Linked DNA regions of Homo sapiens: regions 1 and 2 are each linked to region 3. The links come from fine-mapping of genetic effects on gene expression. A gene starts in region 3. Each other region holds a variant in brackets. All regions are shown on one strand. Distances are between the middles of the regions.

What was found.
Region 1: its variant is fine-mapped to the expression of SMARCAL1 in stomach (GTEx, PIP 0.91).
Region 2: its variant is fine-mapped to the expression of SMARCAL1 in whole blood (INTERVAL, PIP 0.90).

What each region holds. Positions count from the first base shown.
Region 1 is chr2:216,461,072-216,471,211 of GRCh38, reverse strand. SMARCAL1 (SNF2 related chromatin remodeling annealing helicase 1) reads right to left here. Exons shown (of 18, transcript NM_014140.4): 13 at 6,545-6,615; 14 at 3,166-3,268. Among named protein-coding and RNA genes, the nearest start is that of RPL37A-DT, 33 kb to the left of the region's middle. The variant A/C (reference allele first, on the strand shown) is at 3,878.
Region 2 is chr2:216,492,127-216,502,266 of GRCh38, reverse strand. RPL37A (ribosomal protein L37a) reads right to left here and starts at 3,423. Exons shown (of 4, transcript NM_000998.5): 1 at 3,390-3,423; 2 at 2,869-2,997; 3 at 2,236-2,318; 4 at 1-926. The coding sequence starts at 3,392. The coding sequence ends at 863. RPL37A-DT (RPL37A divergent transcript) reads left to right here and starts at 3,515. Exons shown (of 4, transcript NR_183317.1): 1 at 3,515-3,660. RefSeq lists enhancers at 3,347-3,736, 3,917-4,006, 9,641-9,700 and a silencer at 6,109-6,178. The variant A/T (reference allele first, on the strand shown) is at 5,833.
Region 3 is chr2:216,407,915-216,418,054 of GRCh38, reverse strand. SMARCAL1 (SNF2 related chromatin remodeling annealing helicase 1) reads right to left here and starts at 5,571. Exons shown (of 18, transcript NM_014140.4): 1 at 5,407-5,571; 2 at 4,163-4,199; 3 at 2,540-3,408; 4 at 1,748-1,798. The coding sequence starts at 3,350. It overlaps SMARCAL1-AS1 (SMARCAL1 antisense RNA 1), which reads left to right and starts at 5,555. Exons shown (of 5, transcript XR_001739881.1): 1 at 5,555-5,630. RefSeq lists enhancers at 242-301, 5,462-5,551, 5,682-5,771, 5,515-5,809.

The DNA.
Region 1 (10,140 bases), 53 kb before region 3:
ATACTTTATGGTTTCAAGGATCTTTGATTCACCTGCAATTTAATATAGTAAACAGTGAGTTAAAGTTTCATCTACCCTCCCACCCCCCAATTATTTAGGCAATTACCCAAACTTTGTTGAAGAAATTGAAAACGGATTTGTGACAATTCCTTGATCATGTATTTGCTTTCCATTTATGGTAAAGGGCCATGTATTCTATTCCACCATCTGGCCATCTCTCTGGGGCCAGCATGGCTGAATTTTAATTATTGGTATTTTATAACAGATTTTAATATTTAATGTCTGAAGGGACAAGTCTTCCAACATTGCTCTTCTTTTTCATAGTTGTTTAGATATCGCTCCTGCTTTTTTTTTTTTTTTTTTTTTTTTTTTTGAGATGTTCTTGGGAGTAACAGTATAAAGTTCCCTTTAAAAAATCCAACTGGAGGCTGGGTGCGGTGGCTAATGCCTGTAATCCCAGCACTTTGGTAGGCTGAGGCAAAAGAATTGCTTGAGCCCAGTTCTAGACAAGCCTGGGCAACATGGCAAGACCCTGTCTCTACAGAAAAATTTAAAAATTTGCAAGGCGTGGTGGTACATTCCTGAGGTCCCAGCTACTGGGAAGGCTCAGGCAGGAGGATCACTTGAGCCTAGGAGGTTTAGGCTTCAGTGAGCAGCATTCGTGCCACTGAACTCCAGTGTGGGAGATACAGTGAGACTCTGCTTCAAAAAAAAAAAAAAGATCTAGTTGGAGTTTTTATTAGAATTCAATTAAACCAGCTGGGCCTGGTGGCTCACATCTGTAATCCCAGCATTTTGAGAGGCTGAAGCAGGTGGATCACTTGAGGCCTAGAGTTTGAGACTAACCTGGCCAACATGGTGGAACCCCGTCTCTACTAAAAAAATGCAAAAAAATTAGCTGGGCGTGGTGGTGTGCACCAGTAATCCCAGCTATTCAGGAGGCTGAGGCATGAGAATCTCTTGAACCCAGGAGGCGGAGGCTATAGTGAGCTAAGATGAAGCCACTGCACTCCAGCCCGGGCAACGGAGCGAGACCCCCCTCCCCAACAAAATAAATTTAAAAGATAAAAAGATAACTGATAAAACATTAATATCCAGAATTTATAAAGAATTTTCCTAAATCAGTAAGAAAAAAACAATCCAACAGAAAAACAGGCAAAGGATACAAACAGAATATTCACAGGAGACAGCTAAAATGGCCATAAATAAATAAATAAATAAAATGATACACATTTTACTGGTAGTCAGGGAAATGCAAATTAGAGCAAGAATGAGATGATATTTCATTTCTCTGGATTGGTAAAATTAAAAAGTTGGATAATACCAGTGTTAATGGGCACACAGAACAGCAGGAACCCTTATATGTTGTTAGTGAGATTATAAATGTGAATGACCACCTTGGAGAGCAATTTGACAACATTTAGTATGAAGATGAACCTATTTAATAACCATGCAAGAGCATGCCTGAATATGCCTCCCCTACACAAAGCACATACACAAGCCATAAAGAAATGCATAGATACAAACATACACCTACTATAATATTCACACGATAGCAACCATCAGCAGGAGAATGGATAAACTGCAGTATAGCTATCCAATGAGATACAATTCCACAGTTACAGTGAATGAACTATACGTGTAATGCAGTATAAAGAAATCTCCATTGGGAGGCCGAGGCGGGCGGATCATGAGGTCAGGAGATCGAGACCATCCTGGCTAACACACGGTGAAACCCTGTCTCTACTAAAAATACAAAAAAATTAGCCAGGCATGGTGGCGGGCACCTGTAGTCCCAGCTTCTCGGGAGGCTGAGACAGGAGAATAGCTTGAACCCGGGAGGTGGAGCTTGCAGTGAGCCAAGGTCGTGCTACTGCACTCCAGCCTGGGGGACAGAGCAAGACTGTTTCAAAAAAAAAAAAAAAAAAAAAAGAAATCTCTAAAACAATGCTGAGAAAAAAGTAAGTTGCAGGATAATTACACCGTGCTGTCATTTATTTTAAATTTTTAAAAATAAGCAAAAAGGAGACGATAAATTGCTTATGGATACGTACTCCTAGAATATAGTATGACAACATGGAGGGCAAGGATACCCATTGCCTTCGTAATAGTGATGTTATTGCTGGAGAGATGGAAGGGGAATAAAGTTAGAATACTGAGGGGACCTAAGTATTTTATTATTAAAAAAATAAACCTTCAGGCTGGGTGTGGTGGCTCATGCCTGTAATCCAAGCACTCTGGGAGGCCGAGGTAGGTGGATCACTTGAGGCCAGGAGTTCAAGACCAGCCTGGGCAACATGGTGAAACCCCGTCTCTACTAAAAATACAAAAATTAGCCAGGTGAGGTGGTGTAGTCCCAGCTACTTGGAAGGCTGAGGCACGAGAATCACTTGAACCTGAGAAGCGGAGGCTACAGTGAGCTGAGATCCTGCCACTGCACTCCAGCATGGGCAACACAGCAAGACTCTGCCTCAAAATAAAAAAACCTTGAAATAAATTCATTTATTAAATCTGGGTGGGAGATACATGGGTATTTGCTGTATATTTCTCTGTACTCTTAAAGTACATTCAAATGTTATATAAATATAAACGATGAGGGAAGACAAAGAGCAATTTACAGCCTTAAATTTAACCAAAAATGAAAAGGGGATGAAATGTGTTCAGTTTTCATAAACATCCTTGGAAATCCTTCTAGATCCCTTTCGTTCAATTTCAGGAGAGCCATAAAACTCTCTACTAATGTCTGCACACTGCCATGTGGAATTAATAAAAGTGCTTTGACAGTGCTGAGGAGGAATGAAAGGAAGGAAAAGAGGAAAACATTCACATAAATACTTGTCTCCATACAAAAGGACAATTTTGCTATCTCCTCTCTTGCCAACTTTGTAATTATTTATGCAGAATAATGGAACAGCCCCTGGGAGATGTTCCTAAAGCAAGACTCCTGGGATATCTATTTGGAGCATGGAGGAAGTTAAAATGACATGGCTGGGGAAACATTTTGACCCCACTGTGGTTCTACAAGCAAGAACTCTTCTTCAGAAAGTCTTCAGCAATGCTTCCGGAAGCCATCGGTCTCACTTTGCTTGGATCTGACCTAAGCCTGCTTAGAACAACTTGGGACATGGCAAAAGTAGCCCATGGTGAATTTCAAAGGGAGCTCACCTTTCTCTCAAGCTCTTGCGTAATTGCGTCCAGGACCACCTTATGGTGTGCAAATACTAAAAACTTCTCTCTTCCACTTTCCAGTAGGTCCAAGATATATTCACTGCATTTGACAATGACAACAAAACAGATTAAACATATACTCCTTATGTTTTATGTGTCTCTGGTATGTTACTGAAACATTCTTATTATCTGGGATCATAGAAGATGATCAACAGTTTTCACTTTACCTCCGACTATCATTATAATGTGTTTTAAATACAAATTAGAGTGTCCTCTGTAGATCTGAAAGCATTTAGGGAGGGGACTAAGGAATTAATGACAGTACACAAATTTCTAGAAGCTAAATATTGAGACATACATAATACTAAAGAGACATTCCAAGAAGGATCTCCAGCTCCTCCCACTTTAGACCTCAAATGACAGGGCCAGTAGTTAAGTCAGTTAATTCTCTTCCAAGGCAGAGGACTATGGAGAGAAGGTTCTCATTTGTTTGGCCTCCCTTAATTTACATCTCTCTTCCAGCCACTGTGTTTTTTCTTAGCTTCCCACCCTTTTTTTTTTTTTTTTTTTTTTGAGACTGAGTTTCGCTCTGTCGCCCAGGCTGGAGTGCAGTGCTGAAATCTCAGCTCACTGCAACCTCCACCTCCTGGGTTCAAGCAATTCTCTTGCCTCAGCCTCCTGAGTAGCTGGGATTACAGGTGTGTACCAC[A/C]ACGCCCAGCTAATTTTTGTATTTTTAGTAGGGATGGGGTTTCACCATGTTGGCCAGGCTGGTCTCAAACTCCTGACCTCAAGTGATTTGCCCACCTTGGCCTCCCAAAGTGCTGAGATTACAGGCGTGAGCCACCGCACCCGGCAAGCTTCCCACCTCTTATCTTTCGCTTGGCCTTAAGGTGGCTACCCTCAGGGAGCAGTGGGGTGGGAAGTCACCAGGTTAACAGACCCTGGCTAGGTGCCCCCTCCCCTGGTAGCTCCCTGAAGAGGGATCACAATCCCAAAGAAGAGGTAAGCCCAGTACAGGCAAGTGAGCTCCTTTGCTGAGGCCATTGCCAGCCATGGGTGCGTCTGGACAGGGAACAGACTCTGCCTTCCTTAAAGAAGGATATGTCTCAGGTGAGGGAAAGGTACGTGGACTGCCCTGTAAACATCCAAGAGTCATTTCAAACAACACTATGACTGACCAGGGCACCAGATTTGAGTTCAATTTGTGAATTGTTGATACTAATAGAATTTACTTTAATTATTTTGAGAGACATAAAATTTGCCATGATATAAGCAAAAAAGTTTACGGCTACAGCATCAAAAAGTCACAAGGCCACAAAATCCACTTGGTGAGCTCATAAAAACCACAGGCCCCAATTTTCCTAATGCGTCTTTCCCCTCTATATCTCATACACAGCTTTGTTGTTCTATAACCTTCTACAAGTTCCTAGGCTGGAAATATCTGCCTACCACAATAACCTTGGCTTTTATATTAAAAGATGCCCATTAAAATGAAAAAACAAACAACAGCAAAAAAAGAAAAGAAAAACAACTAGCTGAGGAAATTGGGGTTTTGAAGACATACAATCTAATTTCCACTTACTAGCTGTGTGACTCTGAGGTCCAGAGAGTCATAGATTTACTCAGTGTTTGCATTTTTAAAAATGGAGCCAGTGTGACTTACATGATCTCACAAAGATGCTGTAAATGTGAAATGAGTTCACAGGTGTAAAAAATGTTTGGAAACTACAAAGCACTATACAATTTATTGTATAATAGAAATTTGAGAAAGTATGTATAAGGTATGACCAAAGTTTATTTATGAGGTGGTAGAAAGACTTAAAATTTCTAAGGGAAATGGGTGGCTCTGGGCACAGTATCTGAAGAGAGAGGCACCTGGTGGACTCTGAATTTTGCAGGTCCTGAGCTGAGGGAGCAAGGGAGAAACGCACACCCTTGCCATCTGTTATTCCACAGCACATGAGAAATGGGTCAGCGGGGGCAACTCAGATGTGTTTCTGGGAGAAAAGTTTCCAGGCCATAAAAACCACATCTGGAGTTCATTAGCAGGGTCATAAATGAAAAGGGCAGTGCCCAGGAGGTGAAGGGGAGGAGGCCAGCACTGGGCAGTCTTTCCAGGGGGCATTGCAGATCGAGTGGTGTGGGGAGCTCTCTTGCCACAGTGGAGGGTGTGGAGAGGTAGGTGGGCCAAGTACGAGGATGGGGCAGATATATTTCTTAATTTATCCCCAGATCTCAGTCCCCACAGCCAGTCTGGCACCACTCAGCCCTACGGAATCCATTCTCATTGTAATTTCATCAGTTGGACCATTATCCTGCCAGAGCATCACATGAATGTTAAACAAAAAAAAAAATCAGGCAAACTGCACATCATTAGAATTGCCAGGTTTCTACCCCAGTGATATTTAAATAGGAGTGGGTTTTTCTTTAAGAAAGGCATACAATTGAGATTTTGTCATGAATAATTGTAAGAATAGAAATTATTACTTTAGCTTTAATTTATAAGGTGGAAATAGAACTAGGCGTGACAACGGCCATATGCCCATATCTTTTGAACAAACTTTGACATTTGTCTTTTTATTTAGGTAAGTAATGGATGACAATTCCTGACCTTGGGGAAGACCCAAGTATCCCCATAAGGCAGCTTTTCCTTCTAATTTTTTTTTCCCTAAAGGCAAATGATCACAGTCCTCCTAGAAAAACTCTCCCCTTTGGTGCTGGGGACAACCCCACCCTCCTTTTAACGAGCAGCAGCTCCAGCCTACTTGGCTCAAGACAGGATCTCTTAGAGACCCAGGTACATCCTAGTAGTCGCTCCAGTTACCGGCCAACTTATGCCTTGTGTGTAATTAACAGCAGGGTGCCCTAAACTTTTACTTTTTTCATTTTTCCCTTGAGACAGGGTTTTAGTCTCTTGCTTAGGCTGGAGTGCAGTGGCACCACCTTAGCTCACTGCAGCCTCGACCGTCCTCCCTCCCAAGCAATCCTCCCTCCTCAGCCTCCTGAGTAGTTGGGACCACAGGTGCATGCCACCATGCCCAGCTAATTCTGTTCATTTTTTGTATAAATGGGGTCTCACTATGTTGTCCAGGCTGGTCTCAAACTCCTGGACTCAAGCAATCCTCCCACCTTGGCCTCCCAAAGTGCTGGGATTACAGGCATTGAGCCTGGCCCCTAAACTTTATTTTCAAGGCAGCTATAATTCTACTCTCTGATCATCTGTTTTATTTTTTCCTTCCTCAACAAAAGGCACATTTAATAATCTCTGGTCATTTCTTAGACGCAGTAAAATCATTCAGGCAGAATAAAGTAATAAGTTGTTTTTTTTTTTTTTGAAGATGAGAGAGAGAGAGGTCGACACTTAGTGACCACTTACATGACAGATGGGATTTTAGCTTCAGCTGTTCTGTTGAAGAAGAGAATGAGGGCATCTTTCTGCTGCTGTTTCTGTTGAAAGATAAGTTAAGAATGTTAAGTGCCCCAGTCTGAGAACTCTGGGATGAGTGGATCTAATTATTGCTCCTATGCGCTTTACAAATCTCAACCACCCGTCACCAGAGTCAGGAGACCCTGGTGCTGACAATGATTCCCCTTTCACTTTGGCCAAGTCAGAAGAACTGCCTGGGTCGGGTTTTGTCCTCAGAGACGGCATTAGAGCTACTCTGCCATTGTCCAAGAACCATTGCAAGAATCCAAGAGGCAAGGAACACAAAAGCTCTTTGGAGACGCATTTCAGGTAGGGCTTCACCATACACACCAGACCCATGTGAACCACTGAAATGTGGCCTTGGCTAAGCATACCTATTTACTACAGCCTGGTGACAACTTACATGTGACATTTCCCCAACTTGCTTTTTGCTTCCCTCTTTTCTTCTGCCAAGCTGTGACTATACCTGACTTACAGAGCTTACCTCTGTCCAAGATTTACTGAATCAATTCCAATGGACCCTGACTAGTCTATTTTACTATCATTTTATTTTATCTTATTTTTTATTTTTTTGAGACAAAGTCTCGCTCTGTCTCGCCCAGGCTGGAGTGCAGTGGCGCGATCTCGGCTCACTGCAGCCTCTGCCTCCCAGGTTCAAGCGATTCTCCCGTCTCAGCCTCCGAGTAGCTGGGACTTACAGGCATGTGCCACCACGTCCAGCTAATTTTGTATTTTTAGTAGAGACAGGGTTTCACCATGTTGGCCAGGCTGGTCTCGAACTTCTGACCTCCGGTGTTCCACCCACCTCAGCCTCCCAAAGTGCTGGGATTACAGGCATGAGTCACCGCACCTGGCCCATTTTAGTATCATTTTAAAACCATTATTCAGGTGTTCTTGGTATACCTCCCACATAAGGTAATTAACTTCCCAGAAGAAGAAACGGTGTTTTCTTTATGGTTTACATTTAAGTGACTCCTAATAAAGAATGCTAACACAGGAGATGCTCAAATCATTTCATAATAATGTGAGATAACATTTACTATCGCTCTGGCCTCCCAGAGATCATACTCTTACCATCATTGGTAAGAGTGTCCCCCCAAAATTCATAATCTGAAACTTAATTTCCAGTGCAGTGGTGGTGGGAAGTGGGGCATCTGGGAGATGCTTAGATCATAAGGACAGAGAGCCTCTTTGTTCCTTCCGCCCTCTTTGAAACAGAAACTGGGCCCTCACTAGACACTGAATCTGCTGGCCACTTGATCTTGAACTTCCCAGCCCCTAAAACCATGAGCAATACATTTCTGTTTATAGATGGCTCAGTCTAAAGTATTTTGTTACAGCACAAAAGGACCAAGACAGGTGGCCATCTCCTTTCACCAGCAAGCATAGTACAGGTGCACCCCCCTTCTTGTGCCTGGCCTCTGTAAGATCTGTGACTGACAGGACAGCTTCCCCAGGGAACAAAGACGTGATTCAACAGCAATAACATCTATAGCCTTGAACCTGTCATTCTTGAGATCTTGATAACTCAGGAAAGCAACCACAGCCAGACTGTACCTAAAACTAATAACCATGGATGGAGGAAAAAGCTGTCTGGTTAAAACAGCTTCTTGGCTTTGGGGTTGTTTTTGTTTTTGAGACAGGGTCATGCTCTGTCACCCAGGCTGGACTCGATCATGGCTCACTGCAGCCTCAGCGTCTTGGGCTCAAGCAATCCTCCCACCTCAGCCTCCCAAGTAACTGGGACTAAAGGTATGCACCACCACACCAGCTTTTTTTTTTTTTTTATTTTTTGTAGAGACAGGATCTCACTATGTTGTCCAGGTCCGTCTCAAACTCTTAGGCTCAAGTAATCCTCCCATCTTGGCCTCCTACAGTGCTGGGATTACAGGCATGAGCCACTGCATCTGGCCAGCTTCTTAGCTTTGAATGGTATCTTTCCTCCAGGACTTTACGGGAAAAAAGAAAGATGCTGAGGAACCCAGGAAGCTGTGGGGTCACTGATTAGACTGTAAATCCCTTTCATATCCTACATGTGTCTTGGCAGTGGCAGCCACCTACCCTCCTATTTTGTATCACGCTCTGGAAACATACACAACTTTTCACCTGTGGCTAGTGAGCTCAGACTTCATGAAATCCATTCATGGACGTCTAACGGTCCCCAGGAGCAGGCTAGGCCCTCCAACCCAATGCAGTTTCTAGTAGCCAAAGGGGCAGGGCAGGCTTACATGTGATGACCTCACTCGCAGCATGTGTGCCTCCATCAGACTGCACCCCAGTTGGCCCCCATCTTCAGTTTTACTCGTGTCCTTCAGAGAGAGCCTACCCCTCCCACCTACACTCACTCATGCCATACTCCCTAATAAGAAAGAAAGAGGGCAAAACAAACAGATGGAAAACTGCTGAGAAGCACTTTCAGGAATCTTGCTCTAACATTTAGCACCTAGAGTTGATGAGAGTATGAAGAAACAAACACTTTTATTATACTTGACTGGTGGGATGGTACACTGGGCTAGCCCTTTTGGGGATGATGCAGCAAAACGTACCAACCCCCTTTAAATATGCCAAAACCCTACCATCCAGCAACTTACTCCTTAAAACTAATTCTCATTATAAAATTGCATGTGCACAAATTTCTATGTAAGCTACTTTTTCAGTACAGTATTACTCAGAATAGTGAGCAATTGAAAGTAACTTAAAGGCCCAACAAAACGATTAGCAAAATTATAGCCGTGTGAGAAAACACTATGCAGTCTTTAAATATTATGGTTTGTTTTTTTTTTTTTTGAGACAAGGTCTCTGTCTGTCACACTGGAATGCAGTGGCACAATCACAGCTCACCTCAGCCCCAAACTCCCAGACTCAGGTGATCTTCCCACCTCAGCCTCCTACCCAAGTAGCTGGGACTACAGGTACACACTACCACGCCCAGCTAATTTTTTTGGATTTTTTGTAGAGACAGGGTTTTGCCATGTTGTCCAGGCTGGTATCAATCTCCTGGGCTCAAGTGATCCTCCTGCCTTGGCCTCCCAAAATGTTGGGATTACAGGAGTGAGCCAGCACACCTGGCTAAATATTATGTTTTAAGAGAATATTTAACAACATGGAAAAGTCTTCATAAGACAGTAACCTGTTTTCCTTCCCACTTGACGTGTTTGTATGATCCCAGTTCTGCTTTTAAAATACACATATTGCTTATTGCATATATAATATTTTATATATATTTATATGCAGATACATAAAAATATATCTTAAAGCAACATATACACACATAATTATAGAAAAATACTCAAATTATATATGCCAAAATTATGGTTGTATAAAAGATGATTCTTTTTTTTTAAATTGGTTAACTTTTTATTATCTTGTTTGTACTTTTAAAAAGTATAGTTACAGAAGCAGCACATGTGCACTATAGGAAATTTTTGAATTTAATTAAATCAATTTAATTACCATCAGTGTCCACCAATGCTCATTACCTTAATGTTTACCTTTCCAGGTCTTTATACACATACACACACACATACACACACACACACACACAC
Region 2 (10,140 bases), 84 kb before region 3:
CAACCTCCGCCTCGTAGGTTCAAGTGATTCTTGTGCCTGAGCCTCCAAAGTAGCTGGGATTACAGGCATGTGCCACCATACCAAGCTATTTTTTGTATTTTTCGTCGAGACGGGTTTTTGCTATGTTGGCCACACTGGTCTCAATCTCCTGGCCTCAAGTAATCCACCTGCCTCAGCCACCCAAAGTGCTGGGATTTCAGGCGTGAGTCACCGCACCCAGCCTAGACACATTATAAAAATATTAAATGCAAGGCTGGGCGTGGTGGCTCACACCTGTAATCCCAGCACTCTGGAAGGCCAAGGCAGGTGGATCGCTTGAGGTCAGTTCAAGAACAGCCTGGCCAATGTGGTGAAAACTCCATCTCTACTCAAAATACAAAAATTAGCCAGGTATGGTGGTGCGTGCCTGTAATCCCAGCTACTCAGGAGGCTGAGGCAGGAGAATCGCTTGAACCTAAGAAGTGGAGGTTGAAGTGGGCCAAGACTGGTATACTGCACTCCAGCCTGGGTAACAGAGACTCCGCCTCAAAAACAAACAAAAAAACTAACTGTAATTTAAAAACTAAAGTTTACAGTTGGCTCCAATGTATCTCAAAGTCAAACTGGCAGGAGCAGACTTATAAAAAGCTAACACTCATATCTAACTTGGAAGACTTATATTCTTATGCTGCATTTTACCATTTGACTACTAAAAAAGACACTGAATTACAATAATCCATCTTGGCATGCTTTTCCAATACAACAGTATTTACACAATGCAAACATCAGAATGTCTAATAAAGTTAACAAGCCAAGGCAATTTTGTTACATAAATTAACCCATTTATTATAGGCCAGTGATGTCTCAAAGAGTAGAGGAGCGTCTACTGGTCTTTCAACTCCTTCAGTCTTCTGATGGCGGACTTTACCGTGACAGCGGAAGTGGTACTGGAAAGAAAGATTCAGTTTCCAACATAATTAAGCATGTTAACATAGAAAATGGCAAATAAGTAAATCTGCCTCGTTTTTGTGTTAAAGTCGCTTCCCAAATTTTCCTAGAAAGAATTATACTGAGATAGACTGCTCTACCAATACTTTGCTGCAGTCAATCCAAAGATCTAACCAACATTAGATTACTCCTCGGAAATTAGTGGCTTCTAAACTACATGATGGCATCCTTTAAGAGCCATGCCTTCAGGATCTTGCAGAATTAGACATACAATCTCATGCATCTGATTTCTCAACCAGAGTTGCTTTTTTTTTTATAAGTAACTCAGTTGTGGACAAGCAAGCTTTAACTCCCCCTACCCCATCCCATGAAAAAGAAATGGTTCTAAGAGGCTGACCTAAACTTATTAAAAGGGAATGGACAGATTACAAGAAATGAATAAATTACAAGATGATACAGTGAGAACAATGATTAAGGAAATAAGAGCGGACACTAAAGTGCCTTTGGGAAAGACAGCTATTGAAATGACTACAAAAGTTTTACCATAAAATTCAGGAACTATACCTGAAAATCACCATCCTGTATTGTAAGTATATAAATAATTCACTTTCCTATCAGAACCAAGAAAGCACTCTAGTTCCCATTTTCCATTCTGCCCTAATAAAAACCCCCACAAGGAATATATATATATTTCAACATTTTCCACTGCTTCGGTTTAAGTTTAAATTGACTGAAACTTTAAAATCCAATTCTTTAATTACACTAGCCATATATGTGCTTAGTGTATTGGACAACACAGGTCTAGATGCTAGTTTGTAGTATAGTGTTTGTAGTATCGCCCTGTCAGGTGATACTGAGTTGCAGATTCACAAACCTGCAGCAGTCTAATACTGTTCAGAAAGACGAAACTGTGGTGGTCCTGATGGCCTCAAGTTCCAAATACAGTTTTGAACTAACTGACCCCTTCACCTATTTTTATCAAAACTTGCAGTGCAAATCAACGTTCAGTAGATTCAGCCCCACTAATGGACCTGCACAGTATCATGACAATGTTCACAACAATGTGCCCAGTGACCATCAAATTCTAAAGTAGTCTGTGAATTAGATTTCCGACTTCTATTTTGGTAGTTTTGTGTTTACTCTTTCAATAACTGAAAATAAACCACCACGGAAGAATCCTGAAAATACAAAGGCATCCTTATTCTCTCAGTCCTGAGAAAGTGTTAAAACTAGCCCATCCAGCAGCAACCTGGAATTTGGGCCTATGTGGTCCACACACTTCCAAATACCACAAGGAACTAGACTCACTTGTACGTCCAGGCACCGCCAGCCACTGTCTTCATGCAGGAACCACAGTGCCAGATCCCCACAGCTCGTCTCTTCATCTTGGTCTATAAAAGAGAACCAATTTTCACTATGAACCAAGTAAGTATTTTCTCTTACAAGCATCCAGAAGTCTAAATTTGGATTCACCTTATTGTCAGGGATGTGAAAGCCTCCCTTTCTCCCTCAAAAACAAAACAGGGATTGCTGTAATGCAGTATTTTGCACATAAACGTTCAAACCTTTATCAAACAAAAATCCCTCGCAGAACAAGTAGAATGGTATTAGATGCACAGACATCTTGGGAGTTGGTGCAGAAACATCAGTAGACAAAACTGATGGAATCATTTCCCACAAAGCAGGTTTGGCTTAGGCTGGGGGCACTCTGTCAAATGATTATTTTACCCATTAACGTTTAAGCGGTTTTCTTTAAATGAAAAACGTCTCACAAAATCTGAAGTTACCATCAACACTTTTATCTTAAAACTCATAATCAACGGTATGAGTAATTCCAACTGCCCACCAGCACACGGCTTATAAAATACCTTGAAGTCAGGCCTCACTTGGGTAAGAAACCTGCCCTCCCTCTCCTCTCACCAGAGACTTTGCCTTACTTACTTTGCCACAGAAAGAGCAAGTGTACTTGGCGTGCTGGCTGATTTCAATTTTCTTCACCATTTTCCGGAGGGAGGCCCCATAGCGGGTCCCGTATTTACCGACGATCCCGACTTTCTTGGTACGTTTGGCCTGTTTAGAGTGAAGGGAGAAACCAGTGATAGACCTGGAACCCAGGCAGGCCCTGGAGCCTCCACACACCGTTCCTCCACCTCACTGACGTGTGACCGACATGTGAATTACATATGACCTAGTTTTCCCTAAATTCAACCCAACGAAACCAGTGCCCAGGGCTGGCCGCGCGCTCCGAAGGCCCGGCGTTAACCCGGCTGGAGCGCGCCAGGCCCAGCCAAGGCGCCCCCGCCCCTCCGCCTTGGGGAGCTTCCGACAATGGTGTCTCCTGCAAAGGCATGGAGACAGGAGAGAACACGGGGTAAGGCAGGAGAGGAGATGGGTGCGGGAGAAGAAAACAAGGACAGATGCAGGCAGATAGAGTTCTAGGCCGCACAGAGACCCACACTCACCATGTCGCCGCGACCTAGGTCCGAGCCCAGAAAGGAAGAGACGCGGTGCGCAGGCGCGGTATTAGGCGGACGAGCGGAAGTGGCTGGTAGAGGCCTAGCTAGGAACTGAGCTCTATGGTTTGGGCGTTTTCAGGCGGCCTCCTGAGAAATGTTTGCAATTGTAAGGCGTCTCTCTCATCCAGGTTTACCCAGATTCGCAAACTATGGCGACAAACAACCATAGCAGAAGCATGTCCGGATTATTTCACATATATCACAAAATCCTGCAAAGGTACGAGTTCCTCCATTCGATGCACAGCACTTGGCTTGGAGAAGTGCATAAATCTTACATTTGTGGGGCCGGGCGCGGTGGCTCACGCTTGTGATTCTAACACTTTGGGAGGCGGGGTGGGTCAGGAGTTCGAGACCAGCCTGGCCAGCAGGGTGAAACCCCGTCTCTATTCCAAATCTCATTTATTTCCCCCTCTGCATTATGCTCTCTAAAAGTGGCTGACTGTGCAGGATGCTAGCGACAGTGGTGACTAAAATCCAAGGTTCCATTCCCAGAACAAGTTGCAGGCCAGCTGCAAACGATCATATAGCCACATTAAGAAGTTAGACAGTTTCAAACTGGTCAGAGTTCTGAAGGAAAGGACGATGGTTCTGCTCGCGACTAATTCAGAAGAGCCTGGTGTTTCCTGAGGAAAGTCTGAGATTGGAAGGCTGGGGAAAAGTTAACAGTCACCTTGGAGTTTTGTGTTCCAGCTGCTGCATCTCAGTGCGGATGGCCTGCCTTCCACTTCATTTCAGAACTCACTTCCATGGCCCCACACTAGGCTGTTAAGACAGCTTCCTGGTCCAGGCCTGAACCCTTAAACTCCAACATCTTACCCTTTACCCACCGTCAATTCTCTGTCCCTCCAGGTCTCTCAAAGGGGTCAGCAGGGAAGAATTGGATTTCTGGTTGAGGCCGGGGGTGGGGAGGGTGTGTTCTGGAACTAGACACATGATCTTCTTTCTTCACGTAGAACACACACACTAGGAAGTTTGGTTGCCTTTTTTCAGGGGATGGCTAATCCAGAGAATAAGAAGCTCAGAAAACTACTGGAATAAGAGTGTAAGAGAGAATCCATGATTAGAGGGCCAAGAAAGACCATGGGAGCTGAAAGGCATTGTGTGGCCCTGATTCCAATCAGAAGTCCGGTAACAAGTAGCTTCCGTTCCCAAAGCTTAATATTAACTGTCTCAAATAATTTTGCACCTGTTCACTTTTCCTCACAATTGTATTAAAGTCAACTTGCATACCTGGGCTGAGGTGGGAAGATCATTTGAGCCTGGGAGGTTGAGGCTGCAGTAAGCTGTCATCACGCCACTGCAGTCCAGCCTGGACAACAGAGTGAGACTCTGTCTCAAAAAATATATATGAATCAAATCAAATCAAAGCAACTTGCAAACAGCTATGTACTTCATATGGTTACAATTGTTGGAGGGTAACACATGGTAGGCACTGAGTATTTTATGTGGATGTTCTCATTTAATTTTCCATTATCCTTTATGATAGGAATGATTATTATCTTCATTACTAAGAAAAAGAGAGGAAGTCTCATGTAATGATTAGGAACTTAGAGGCTCTGGATTCAGTATGGGTTCAAAACAGAACTCTGCTATTTACCAGCTGTGGGACCTCTGACAAGTTATTATATACTTTTCTTTCTTTTTTCTTTTTCTTTTTTTTTTTTTTTTTTTTTTTTTTTTGAGACAGAGTCTCTCTTGGAAAAGATTCTTTGAGACCAGGAGTTCTAGGCAGCCTGGACAATATAGCGAGACCCCATCTCCACACACACAAAAAAATAATAGGCCAGGTATGGTGACACACATCTGTGGTTCTAGCTGCTCAAAAGGCTGAAACGTGAGGATTGCTTGAGCCCAGGAGTTCAGAGGTTACAGTGAGCTATGATCACACCATTTCACTCCAACCTGGACAACAGAGTGAGATCCTTTCTCAAAACAAAAACAAAAAAAGAAAGAAAAAAGAAACTCATCTCAGGGAAGTTAAGAAACTTGCTCAATGTCACACAGCAATTAGAACTCAAATCTGGTCTGTCTGATCCCAAAGTTAGTTCTCCTAATTGCTAGCTTGTACTACGCCAAATCATAATATTTAGTGCACTGAAAAAGCACATCAGAAAACATAGTTGAATTAAAATCAGGTCCCTGGCACTCAGTCTGGGCCAGGATCTGTAACTACCTTGTGGTTTGACTTTAGGTAAGCCACAGTCCCCACATGGAGAACCACCTCCCCACCTCCCAGCAGCCACCATCTTTATTTACAAGGAGCTGGACCAGGTGGTCTTCAAGGTCCTGTCCAGTTCTTCCCTCCTATGATTCCAGGAAGAGCTTCCAGACTTTGAGTGCCACTGGGGCAGTGACCCACCATGTGCTTTATGTCAGCACATCTTGCACA[A/T]TTTTGTGGAATAAAGGTAGTTGTCTCTTTATCCTCCCCAATCTGTTATTCCAGCTCTGGCTGTGTAAATTCAAGGAGGAGAAAAAGCAAAAAGTAGTGGATAGTGGGAATAGTCAAATTGATTTTTGCATACATTTTTTGCATTTTCTAATTATCTTTTATAATGAGCATGTGTTTCTTTTATAATCTAAAAAAACTACCATTAAAAAAAAAACCCCAAACATCTCCAGTAACGACGAGTATACCTACTGCCCCAGATCTCAGGGTTTGTTTTTATTTGTTTTGTTTTGTTTTGAGACAGGGTCTTGCTCTGTTCCCCAGGCTGGTGTGCAGTGGTGTGATCACAGCTCACTATAGCCTTGACCTCCCCAGGCTCAAGCAGTCCTTTCACCACAGTCTCCTGAGTAGTGCCCAAATAATTTTTTTATTTTTGTAGAGACAGTCTTGCCATGTTGCCCAGGCTGGTCTGGAACTCCTGGGTTCAAGCAATCCTCCAGCCTCAGTCTTCCAGAGTGCTGGCATTTCAGGCATGAGCCACCATGCCCAGACCCCAGATCTTGGTTTATAATATCATTCTTTAATAAAAGGAACCAGGGCCCCTTAGAGAAGTGACTCATTCTAGGACTGCAGCAGGAAATATACAAGGCGAGCCTGCAGTATCTTGTGCCAGAAAGTAAGGAAATGTTCAGAAAACCCTACACTGATGGGGATATGTCAGAGAGACACAGGAGTCAACTGAAAGAACTCCGAATGGCCAAAGCTAGAAAATTTTGAGCAATAAATAAGGTAGTATTGATTTAACCCAAGTGTAAAATAAATATCCATGGGTCCATGTGGATATAAATAAATGATAGACTAAATAAATGAAAGACAAGAGGCAACTCTCTTTTGCAGAAGAATTTATTTTTTCTTTTTTTGAGACCGAGTCTTGCTCTGTCGCCCAGGCTGGAGTGCAGTGGTATGATCTGGGCGCACTGCAACCTCTGCCTCCTGGGTTCAAGCAAGTCTCCTGCCTCAGCCTGCTGAGCAGCTGGGACTACAGGCATGCACCACCACACCCAGCTAATTTTTGTATTTTTAGTAGAGACGGGGCTTCACCATAACGGCCAGGCTGGTCTTGAACTCCTGACCTCGTGATCCACCCTCCTCGACCTCCCAAAGTGCTGGGATTACAGGTGTGAGCCACTGCACCCGGCCAAGAAGAATTTCAAATAATTTATGTGGATATTCTGCTCTCAAGGAGGGTGAGCATAACTCCCCACTCCCTAAGTGTGGGCTGCACAGAATGACTTCCTTCCAAAGAGCACAGTATAGAAAGGGGAAAAAAGAGTAACTTTATAGCCAACACGACCTCAGCCAAGGTGATGAAGGTCAACATCAACAGTGATAATCTTGTTACTATGTCCCCTTGATGTGGAATGAAAATGGCACTTTGCCTCTGTGATCTTTCTCCCAAAACCCATAACCTCAGTCTAATCATGAGAACAATAGACAAATTCCAAAAGAGGGACATCCTTCAATATACCTGACCAGGGCTCCTTAAAACTGTCAAACCAGGAAAGCCTGAGTAACTGTCACAGCCAAGAGGAGCGTAAGGTGACATGATGACTAAATGTAACATGAAATCTTAGAACAAAAAAAAGACAATACGTTAAAAACTAGGAAGATCCGAATAAACTACAGACTTTAGGTCATAATAATGTATTAATCTTGCTTTATGAATTGTAACCAATTTACCATACTAATGTTAAGATGTTGCCGGGCGCGGTGGGTCACGCCTGTAATCCCAGCACTTTGAGAAGCTGAGGCAGGCAGATCTCGAGGTCAGGAGATTGAGACCATCCTGGCTAACACAGTGAAACCCTATCTCTACTAAAAATACAAAAAATTAGCCAGGCATGGTGGCACATGCCTATAATCCCAGCTACTCGGGAGGCTGAGGCAGGAGAATTGCTTGAACCTGGGAGGTGGAGGTGGAGTGAGTTGAGATCGTGCCACTGCACTCCAGCCTGGGCGACAGAGCAAGACTTCATCTCAAAAAAAAAAAAAAAAAAAAAAAAGTTAACAATAGAGAAAATTGGGTAAGGGTATACAAAAATACTCTCTCCTCAATTTTTTTATATAACTATAAAACTGTTCTACAAAATAAAGTCTATTTTAAAACAACCACCACCACCACCCAAGGAGGTCACCACAAGTCAATTCCATGAGGACAGGGCTTGTGTTGTTCACCTCTGCATCCCAGGACCTATACAAGAGCCTGACGTGTCAGCAGTAATGTCTGTTGAATGGGGGATTGTTACCTTGCATGGTATAATGGTGATGGGTATATGAAGCGTTTCATGTGTTTGGGTTTCTCTGCTTTGTAAAGTCAGTCCAGTTATGTCAGAACTGAAAAAGGCTTTAGAGATAATGTAGCCCAAACTGGAAACTGAGGCCCGGGGGGTCAAATGACTTGCCCAAGGTCACATAGCCATTAAGTGACACATAAACGTGTGTTCGCTCCACTGTATCACATGATTCAAGTCTCTAAGTCTCTTTCCGCAGCTGCAAAATGAGTATACTGTACAATAAAGGGTCTCAGGAAGATAAAATAACTTCCATGAAGTGTCTAGTGAACATTTTAAAATAGTGGCCAGTATGTTTGTTGAGATGCTGCTGCTGCTGCTGCTGCTACCTGATTTCAACATCTCTTTCTGCCTTTTCAATCCTCTCTCCTCTTCTGCCATACTCAAGGAAGTACAGAAGATCTGCCTTCTTCTTTCCCTTAAAAATATGCCCATCTCTTTTCTCCTTAATTTCTTTAGCTTGGACACAATGAAACCACTACAGTCATGGTAACTGATGCCGCTTGAGGCCCACAAAGGGAGTGAGATGTGCCCAAGATGTTTCTCTTCCACCACAGGCCTCATGCACCCTCTGCCCCCATAGGTTAGGGTGGAAGATGGCAAGGGGCCAAGGGAACAAGTCCCTCTTCCCTCAGAAGGGAAATGCACTGCATTTCAGGGATGTTATCTGGAAAGCTCTCCACCCAAGCAATGCCTGCCTCCAGAAAACTATAAATTAAAACAAAAATATATCCATGTTGATACAAACAAAGGAGACTAGTGGAAGGAGTCTTAAACAAATGCTCACCATGATCCTCCCTTTTCAGACTGTGCCTCTTGGCCACACAGGATGGTGCTCAATTGAGCTGGGGAGTGGGTGAGTCAGCTTCATGCTGGGGCAGTCCAGGCAGAGCTGAGGTGAGCCATCCTGGGCTGGCACTAGAGCCTAATTCAGATCATCATTTAGCAAATGTGCTGCCTCCCCCACGCCCTCCGCTGCAGAGCCTCCTACGTCTCTGGCCTTCAGGGGGGTCTGAGAGAGAGAGCAAGAGAAGAGGGAATGCATGAGTAGGAATGCAGTAAGCGGCTGAAAATGAGACACTCCATAATAGGAGGAAATTGTTCATGTTCAGAGCAATTTTGTCAAAACTGAACAATTATCTTTAAATAGCAAGCTTGAGGATGTACAAATAGCACTCATGAAATCAGCTCTGAGTGACTTCAGAGAATCGGCCCTCTCCTAAAGTCTCAATTTGTCTTTTCTGTGGGCTCATAAATTTCCATCCCTATTAGAGTACCATCCGGTGTGGAGAATGTTAACTATAATGTGTCCCCATAAAAGACTCAGTAAAAATCACTGCTGGCTCACCTCTGCTCTTAAGGAGCCCTCAACATTCACTCTTTGCCTTTAGAAAAATAAATAAGTTAAAAGTCACCTCCAGAGAGGAGTTCTTGTAGCTGTTAACCAGTTCTCTTGGGGCATATGGAACATTTTATTCTTGAAAGAAATCTGAGGTGCAAGCATCATTCCAAATTCATCTTGTGCTGGAGACAGAAAGGGTTTATTGGGGCGTGGTTCCTTCACTTCATGCCTCAAGAGAGCCTGCTCTCCACAAAGCCCCTGGGGGCCACAGACAAGAGTGGGGCCTGCACAGCATTGTTGAGAGTCCCGTGAGGCCAGAGCCACAGGCAAGAGCTGACCCAGCAGGAAAGGTGAGGCCCTCCAAGGCAGTCCTGGATGCCCCGAAAGAATAAGAGTGTGGGAAATTGACTCAGGCAACCCCTCTTTCCTTTCCTCCTTCTCCCCTCAAATTCCATTTAAACTCGTTCTAGTTATTAATGGACCCGTCACAGAGCATTTACACAGGAAGTGCACACATAAAGACTGGAGTAGTTACTTGGCAACTCTTAAGTGGGATAAGGTATGTTAAAAGGAAAACTTTCAACAAATTAAATTTAACAGAGTTTAATTAAGCAAAGA
Region 3 (10,140 bases):
CAGCTACTCAGGAGGCTGAGGCAGGAGAATCACTTGAACCCGGAAGCCAGAGGTTGCAGGGAGCCAAGATCGCACCACTGCACTCCAGCCTGGGCGACAGAGTGAGACTCTGTCTCAAAAAAAAAGTAACGATATCACACAAAAAACCTAAATGAATCTGCAAAAGCAGAAGTCATCTAAGTCACCATGCACCGTGGTCAGAACAAGAGTAAAAAGACAAAACAACCGCAACAGGGGAAACCACTGGTTTAAGATCACCAGCAATGAGAATACCAGGTGTCAAAATCTGCAATCTTTATCCAGAGCCTTGGGTCTCCCCGTTCCAACACCAAATAAATCGATTAAAAAATGAGCCCTCACTAGACGGAGCTAGCAGCAGCAGCGTTATGGGTTGAATTGTGTCCCTCCAAAATTCATGTTAAACACACAGCCCAGGACCTCAGAATGTGATTGTATATGGAGATAGGGCCTTTAAAGAGGTTAATAAGTTAAATGAGGTCACCAAGGTGGGCGATAATCCAATGACTGGTGTTCTTCTAAGAAAAGGGAGAGACCCTAGGGATTTGCACACACAAAGGAAAATCCAAACAAGGACACAGAGAGAAGACAGCCACCTGCAGGGCATGGAGAGAGGCCTCTGAAGAAACCAACCCTACCAATCTCAGGCTTCCAGCCTCCAGGACTGTAAAAAATAAATTTGTATTGTTTAAGCCACCCAGTCAGTGGTACTTTGTCACGGCAGCCCTCGCAAACTAACAACACTAGCAGCTACCAAAGAAAGATATCGCCTAATGTACACATTTCAAGAATTGGAGGCCAAGGAGAAAACCAGGAAATTCTGCAGGGAGCTGTCCCATCACTGGCCCAAACCACCTTTCCCAGAAACTGTACTGGTGCCTCCAGATAATCCTACCTCATACCCCAAATCTGCAAAGTGACCTAAGCATACATCCTTATCTTTTCCTTTCTTAAGCTAGGGGGAGGAAGAGACGGTGTAGAAATGGCAGCTGGGGGAGAAGAGTAAAATAAATGGAAGATGAAAACACACAGGGCTGACGCTTTGACACAGGTGTGCAAGCTCCATGTACCAGGATCAAGTGACAAAAACTTTAGTGTATGACAGTTTTCTCAGAAGACAGAGGGACGTAACCAGGTGCTGACTATGACCAGACACTGCATTAGCTGGAACTTGCCTGGCCAATGCCCCCTCCTTGCATTTTTGAGTAGTTAGCTGCACAGAGAGTACTCTGAGGATCTGTGCTGTTTGCTGAACTGTTACCTTCCTGGGAGCAGGGGCTGGCAGGCTGCCTGAGCTGCCTGTCACTGCTGGGGCCAGCATAGTCTGGTGGGAACGTGTAGTCTGAAGTCAGACTGTCAGGGTTTGAATCCCAGTTGTACAACTTATTGGCTATGTGACCCTGTGTTACTGACTCATCGTCCCTGGGCCTCAGTTTCCCCATCTGTAAAAAAGTCATTATAAGGAATAAAAGTTAGCATAAGGGGCTTAGAATAGCCTAATGCAAAGCAAGCATCATTTAATGCTAGCTTTTGTTAATACTACTAACGGCCTTCACCCACAGAGCTGCCTCATTAGGCTAGACAGAGTGGGAAGGAGTGTTGGGGGGGGTGCCCTGAAAGCTTTCACCACCTGTAAAGCCATGCACTCCATAAGCTGGACTACATGTGATACTCTAAAGATTTTCAGCACCAGTGCCACCCTCCATGAGACAACCATGTGTCTACTTACTCAGGGCACTATAGTCATTCATGCTGAAGTTCCACGTCTTGGTGTCAGGATCTGAAACAAAACAGAGGACTGATGACTGTTGACAATTTGTACTTAGGCACTCAACACAAGCTTGTCTTCTAAATGAATGAATGAAGGACGCCAAGTTCAAAACAGCTGACCAGCAAGCCCCCACTGATCTATAAAAATCTCTGTAGAGGACAAATAGTAAATATAGATAATTCTTTTATTCCATGTAGTGGAATCCAACTCAGGCCCTGGGAAGTTATGAACTTCACCTAAGAGGACTGAGGGCAGAGTTAGGACTAGAATCCAAGTTCTCCAGGTCGTAGTGTGGTCAGGCAAAGCAGTATGAGGAGTAATGGCTCTGGCCTGTAATTGAGCTAGTCACATCCTGACGCTGCCTTTCCAGACCAATGAAACTGGGCCTGTCACTTAATCTTGCTGGGCCAGTTCCATCACCTTAAAAACTAAAATAACATCTACTTATTTCAAAAAAACTGCTGTTCAGCTTAAGTGCTACAATGCATATAAAGCACCTGGCAGAGGAAGCGTCTTCTCAGTAACATTCAACTGTTCTCCAGATGGCCACGTGACAACCATCAAGTTTGGCAGCTGTTTAAGGGAATGACTATTATGAAGGGAAACAAGCTAAAATTGAAAAATTTTTAACAACTGGATGGACAGCATGTGCCAATGCACTCTCTTAATATTTATGAGAAACTGTTAGATTAAAAGAGACTCCAAAAATAAGAAAAAAAAAAAAAAACAGCTGAAAAATGAAGACATTACCATAATTCTTGCTGGGCAGGGTCTTAAACACTGCAATGAGTTCCGCATTGTACCCAATCAACACCTGGAAACGATCGCCGTTCCTTACGCACTTTCCCTTCTGAGAGTTCACTCCTTTTTGGACTGAGGACCCTGACTTCTGCTGGAGTCTTCCTTCTGTCCTGGGCGTTACACTCTCTGAGCTAGAATGGATGTAAGAAATGTTCTGCCCCGAAGGGGAGGCTTTTGCTGTCTTGGCCTCTAACTTAGCATCCCTGGGAGGCTGTCCAGAGGAATGAGCTGGTGTCTCTTGGGAACTCTTTGGTTTGGCCAGAGGCTTATGAGTTGGGTTAGCAAAGGGTGTGAACCTGATCTCAGGTGAAGCCTGAGCATGACCTTGACCTAACTCATAACTCAAGAGCTGTTGTTTAGGGACCTCTGGAGGACTTTGTGCCAAGGGAGGAGAGATTCCAGTGAGAGCCATTTGACTACGTGGACTGTGGCCTGGGCAGGCTGTGGGCATTTCTTCTGGCTTTTTCCATATTCCCTTTGCCTGAAAACTGTGGGAATCATGAGGTCTTTGGTCAGCATTAGATGAGCTACTGAGATTCTGTTGCTTGAAAATGACACCATGGCTCACTGGCTTACAAGACTCCCTTGGGAAATTTTGGGATGGGCCTTGCTTGGCCTGGAATGGGTTGCCAGCAATGGAGGTGCCCGAGCTAGTCCTCTGATGCTGTTCTGCCAATAACTTCTCAGCTCTGCGGGCCAGAGCCTTTTGTCGATTCTCTTCAATCTTTTTCCTCTGCTCCTCTGTAAGAGGCAAGGACATTTTCACAGAGAAATGCTTATGCAGGAATGTCAACCTTTAATTGGAAAGTTGGCAAAAGCTGTGGAAGAAAGTAAGAAGAATGAAATGAACATTACATGTATTAATTGTCATACTCCAACCATGATTTTAACAAGCTTTTGTCCCAGAAAATGCATAATGAGCACAACTAAAGGATGTATTAAAGTTTCTTTTATAATTGCACACACACTGAAATAGTAGGCAGCATATGCTGAAATAAAGACCCTGATCAAAAAGCAAAAAGCAGGTCGGGTGTAATCCCAGCACTTTGGGAAGCTGAGGCAGGTGGATCACTTGAGGTCAGGAGTTTGAGACCAGCCTGGCCAACATGGTGAAACCCCATCTCTACTAAAAATACAAAATTAGCCAGGCGTGGTGGTGCACGCCTGTAATCCCAGCTACTTGGGAGGCTGAGGCAGGAGAATTGCTTGAACCTGGGAGGCAGAGGTTGCAGTAAGCCAAGATCGTGCCACCGCACTCCAGCCTGGGCAACAAGAACAAAACTCTCAAAGAAAAAAAAAAAAGCAAAAAGCAAATCCAAAGCTAAAAAGGCATTTCAGAGGCAATATTTCTCTCCTTCTCACATGGTAACTCACATGGTAACTCAATGGTTCGAAGCACTGCCAAAATGGTGAGTAACTCTTCTGATAACTCACATGGCCCAGCCAAGGTGAGTTATCAGAACCTAAGAAAGTTATGCATTGCAACGTAAATCCATCAGATAATGAGAAAGGTGACATTTTTAACCAGAAAGCATAATAGATTAGACTGAAATAGACCAACCAACCACATACCATGGCGTGACACTTGCTAACATAGTCTTTTTCCAACCTAGAAGAAGGAAAAAAGCATTAGCCTCCCATAGCCTGCACACTGAATTCTCCCCTCACATTCACCCCTTTTTATCATTCCTGGCAAATCAGTCTGCCTGTGGCTCAGTGCAAGCCAGAGCAGCTGGCCTTAGGACCTGACTTCCAACACAACACACGGAGCAACTGACTGACTCTCCTGGGAAAATAAGGAGCAGAAAAAAAAAAATTATGTGTTCACTGTGCAAATTAAGATGCTACATAAAGATGTAAACAAAAAAGAATAAAATTACTCTGTAATCTTACCAGCCATCAATAACCACAGTTGAAATTAATAATTTAGAGTATATAGTTCGGATTTTTTTTCATCCATAACAAAATGGCACATATTTAGGAGATATAAGAATTTATTATAAAGTAGGATCATTGTAAACATTCCATATTGCACCCTGATTATTTTTTTCCATGAATTTACCCGGAACATTTATTTTCCTATGAGCTGAGACATGTTTACAATATTTTAGAAGCAGCGGGCAGGACACACCAATTTGTCTGGCTTGGTTCAGACTAAATAGGCTGCATCTAATGTAATGCTGTGTAACGGTTACAATGATGATGTAGGGGTACTCCAGTAGCATTGCTTAGGCCTCTGGGCAGCTATAGGGTTCAAAGCCTTCCTTCCCTGCTGGGGCTCCCTTTGGCCAGAACCCAACCCCCCTCCCCCCTCCCCCACCACGAAGTATCTATCCCCAGAGAACTTCCACCTTCTCCAACCATTAGCAGTTAGGAAGGGGTGAAGAGGTTAGGAAAAGGTTTTGGAGGTGCACAGCAGAAGCCCTCAGTCTCTCTGGGTAACACACTCCTGCCTAAGTTTCCAACCAGGGATCTCCTGCACCTCCAAACTCCCCAGATCCCAGGCCTGGTAAGCTGTCTCCACTAACCAGAGAGACTCGGCCATAAGACCCACTGATCAGCCCCAAACCATAAATCCATTCCGCCACATGGACGCCCCTCTTCCCCTCTAGGCAGGGACCTCTGCCCCCCGCCCCCCACGCCCCGCATTTCGGGGCGAGCCTCACCCAGCCTCAAGGTAAGCGGGCGCCACGCCCCACTCCCACCCCTACGATCTCCACTTGGATTCACCCTTCCCATTGGCCCACTTCCTCCTCCAGGCTGGCATTGGTCTCGTCCGCCTCCGCCGCCTTCCTGCCAGTCTACCACTTTCTCACCCAGGGAGGCCTAGAACGCGAGCCACATTCGCCCCCGGCCCTGACCCCAGGCGCGACTGCAGAGCCTCCCGAGCGGGACCGGTCTTCCGAGTGGACGGTTAGGCCACGGGTATTCAAGCGCTGCGAGTTCGCCAGCCTTATTGTAGCGGCCAGGCCTGAAGGGCTAGGCCACCGCTGAACTACATTTCCCAGCAGGCAACGCGGCCGCAGTTTCGCTTCCAAAAGTAAGAATGATGAGACGAGAACGCGAGCGGGGCTGCAGTGTCTTCTGGGATTTGTAGTTCGGGCCGGGAGCCTGGCGAGAAACGGGAGCTGCAACGTCATGGGCGGGGCGAAAGTGGTGCACCCTGGAAGTTGTAGTTCTCCAGAGGTTTAGCCAAACACTAGGTCCTGAAAGCCTAGGACGTTGAGGTTTCCAAACCCGGAGTCGGCTGTCTCCAGAGGACATCCCAGACAGCCATACTAACTTGGCAGCTCTTAATAAAAAGTATCTCCCCGGGGCATCCATTCCTGGTATTGCTATACTTGCCATTTAAGCCCCACCCGCTGCGCCCGGCTGCCATCATCGTCATCATTGTAGTCATCAGTCATTGTGTTTAGCATAAATATGAGTTACCTCATTTAACCGCACTACAACCTATGGAACACATTCTTGTCCCCCTTTTACAGAGGGGGAAACTAAGACAGCTATTTGATAATATTTCTCAAGGCTTTATTAAGCTAGCTTGTGATTCTGATTCCATAGCCCCTCCTCTTGAGAGAAGATTAGTCATGAGACTTAAAGAGTCACTTTACCCCATCCTGAGCACCAACATCCTGAGCCATCCTGAGCACCATTGGTGATAAATATAACATTTCTCTATCAGTGTGCATATGAATGTTGCTATTGTTCTATTTTCAAACATGGCTCATTTAAAAACAAACAAGTCTACTAAAGGATTTGAAAAAATGGACCAGACATGCTAAGAAAAAGGAAGCACAGCAATGTGTGTAGTTTGATTTTTTTTTTTTTCATCCTTACCTGTACATGTATGTAAACTCATAAAGGTCTGGGAAGGAAACTTAAAAAGTCACCAAACTGTTCAGGAGCAGAGTGGCATGAAATACACTTTTCAGCTTTTTAATCTCTATTTTTCAGAATGATTTGAATTTTCTAAAATAATAATGTAGAATTTGTGTGACTTTTGAAACAATAAATAATCTCCCTTCTTCCTTCCTTCCTTTTTTTTTTTTTTTTTTTTTTTTTTTTTTTTTTTGAGACAGAGTCTCACTCTGTTGCCTAGACTGAGTGTGGTGGTGTAATCTTGGCTCACTTCAGCCTCTGACTCCTGGGTTCAAATGATTCTCCTGCCTCAGCCTCCCAAATAGCTGGGATTATGGGTGCATGCCGCCATGCCTGGCTGATTTTAGTAATTTTAGTAGAGACAGAGTTTTACCATGTTGGCCAGGCTGGTCTCAAACTCCTGACCTCAAGTGATCCACCTGCCTCAGCCTCCCAAAGTGCTGGGATTACAGGTGTGAGCCACTGCGCCCAGCCCATTTGTCTTAAATGACAAAGACATTGCCTGTCTTAGGGGATCTGTGTGAGGTTTAGTAGTAGAAAGTATTCAAATCTCAGCTCTACCCCTTTTATTGACCTGACATACCCAGTGATTGTGCCTCCATTTTCTCATCTGTAAAGTAAATGTAGAAAACAATACCACCTTGGTAAATCTTGTTATTAGAATCAAAGCAAGGTATTATGAGGGGAAGTGCTTAGTGAACTGTGAAATCCCAGAACAGGTAAGAGAGGGATGTTGTTATTATTTGAGGTAAATCTCTTATATCGTCCGTTTCTCTATACCTAGCGCTCATTTCCTACTGTATAGTGTGAACAGAAACTAGTTAATGAACACCTGTCCCTGCCCTTCCTGTCTCCCAACAGTCAGTTAATTTACTAAGAAAGCTGGGTGCCGTGCACTTGACTCATGTCTGTCACCGATTCATATGACCATCACTTCGCTTTCCTGGGCCTCAGTCGTCTCACCTGTAAAATGATACCCTGCTTTGACATATGCTAAGAGGGCCTGTGGACCAGTGGATCCTCATGTTAGATACTAGAATTCTTATAGATTCACAGATCTTACCCCAGAAATTCCAATTCAGTAAGTCTGGAATTGAGTTAGAAGATGTGATTACCTTTCTAGCTCTAACATTCTAAAATTCTAAGAATAGGAAATTAAAATATGCCTTTGAGGCCGGGTGTGGTGGCTCATGTCTATAATCCCAGCACTTTGGGAGGCCAAAGCAGGCAGATCACCTGAGGTCAGGAGTTCGAGACTAGCCTAGCCAATATGGTGAAACCTCATCTCTACAAAACCCCATCTAATACAAAAAGTAGCTGGGCGTGGTGGTGCATGCCTGTAATTCCAGCTACTCAGGAAGCTGAGGCAGGAGAATCGCTTGAACCCTGGAGGCGGAGGTTGCAGTGAGCTGAGATCATGCCATTGCACTTCAGCCTGGGCAACAAGAGTGAAACTCCATCTCAACAACAAAAAAAAATGCATTTGGGGGGAATAATCATCTTCAGAAAGTAAACTAATTAGACCCCACTCAATAGTTGCATCTTTGCTTTGTCAGTAGCATCGTTTACTGAGGTCTTACTGTATGCAAGGCTTTTTAAAAAACTGTATTTCACCAGTTCTTAAGGTAGATTATAATGAAACTTCATTTAGTAAAAAAAGTTTAAAGGCCTGGAAGAAAACACAGGAAACAAGGAGTGAAAGGAGAGGAGAAGACAGCTGTAGCGGTCAAGCTGCAATTTGACTTTGAGCTTCCTAGCAGATAAGCAAAAATGTCCAGAAGTCATATAAGACCTTCAACCAAACACAGCACAGCTGAAGCTCCCAAACACTGGTCACCTGAGCAGTGCCAAAATGGTTCAGAGCATCACCTGGTTGCCTCAGAAACAAGCAAACAAAAGGATAATGTAATGAATATGTTGTAAAACTAAATTTTTACAATTAATTATAAAATCCTGAGAGTCTATTTAATAGGTTTTAAAGTTTAACTGGTTTTTCTTTAGTAAAGTGATGATTATTATAAATACCTTTATTGGGCAAAATAAAAATTTGTTTTTTCTTCCAAAACTTAATCCAATAATGTTTAGTCAGTGAAATCCAAAAAGCTGGCAGACACCACCATAAGGGAATCCAAAGATGAGTAAGGTCCAGTTTTTCTCCCTCCAAAAGGTTACAGTATTTGGAGAACAGAAGACAAATAACTAGAACAGCCAGATTTAACAAATGTCTCAAATATTTGTCCCAAATATTGTGTGGGACATACTTACACTAAAAATGGATTTAAACATATCTGAAATTCAAATGTAACTGGGCATACTGTATTTTACTCGACAGCCTCCTATTATTTGTAGCTCAGGACTTAGTTGAGCAGCAAGCAAATATGCATTGATAGATGATTCATGGATATATTGACACATTGCATTTTAAAGCTAGAAGGAGCTTTAGAGACCATCTGGTTTCATAGGTGAGGGAATAGAGGCCAGATCGGCTGCCAGTCCATATGGCACCTGTGTTAGTCTGCTCAGGCTACAAAAAAAAAAACAAAAAAAAAAAAACACCACTATAGACCGGGTGGCTTAAACAACAGAAATTTATCTTCTCACAATTCAGGAGGCTGCAAAGTCCAAGATCGAGGTGCCAGCCATTGATTTCTGGTGAGGACCCTCTTCCTCTCTATGTCCTTATGCAGTGGAGAGGGAGAGAGCACAGCCCCCTCTTGTGTCCCTTCTTAGGACGCTGATCCTGTCATATCAGAGTCTTGCCCTTAGGACCTCACTGAACCGTCATTCCCTCCTTGCAGGTCTTGTCTCCAAATATGGTCACAGTAGGGGTTAGGCCTTCAATATGTGAATCTCGGGAGGACACAGTTCAGTCCATAGCAGCACCTTTGTGTGTTGTAAAAACACACCCCTTTCTCCCAGGAAAGGAGCCTGGCTCCAGGACCCACTGCAAGCAGAGCATTGCCAGCCCCCAGCGGGGTGCCCCGGCCAAGTGGCAGTCTTGCTGCTTCCCCAGAAGAATACTTCGATTTTGCCAAAGCTACTTCCTCAGGTGGAAGAAATTGATTTCCCATCTCTCTGGAGTAATCATCCCTCCCCAATTCATGCAGACTTGGAAGAGTGTTAATCAGGGGGCCTCATCCTCGGGGAAGTCAGTGGATGCAAGATACGAGGGAAAACACCAGACCCCCTCCTTCTGGGAACTTAATCTGCAAGGATATGATACAATGAGAAAAAGACAACTGAACCGATATAGCCCAGCAGTGGCTTTGAATGGAGCCTGTTCCTTAGTTCCTGTCACCCAGCTTCGAGAGTCACCCTGACCCTGTTATTCCTGAGCCTTGATTTTGATTTTGCTATTCTGTGAACTGCCCTTAGCCTTCCAGTGAACTCTTTATTTTTATTTTTGGAGTGGGGAGACTCTAATTAACCAAAGTCAGTCTTTGTTGCTTGCATCCAAAGAACCCTGACTTCTTTTTTTTTTTTTTTTTTTTTTGAGACGGAGTCTCGCTCTGTCACCCAGGCTGGAGTGCAGTGGCGCGATCTTGGTTCACTGCAACCTCTGCCTCCTGGATTCAAGCAATTCTCCTGCCTCAGCCTCCTGAGTAGCTGGGATTCTAGATGCAAACCACCATGCCCAGCTAAATTTTGTATTTTTAGTAGAGATGGGGTGT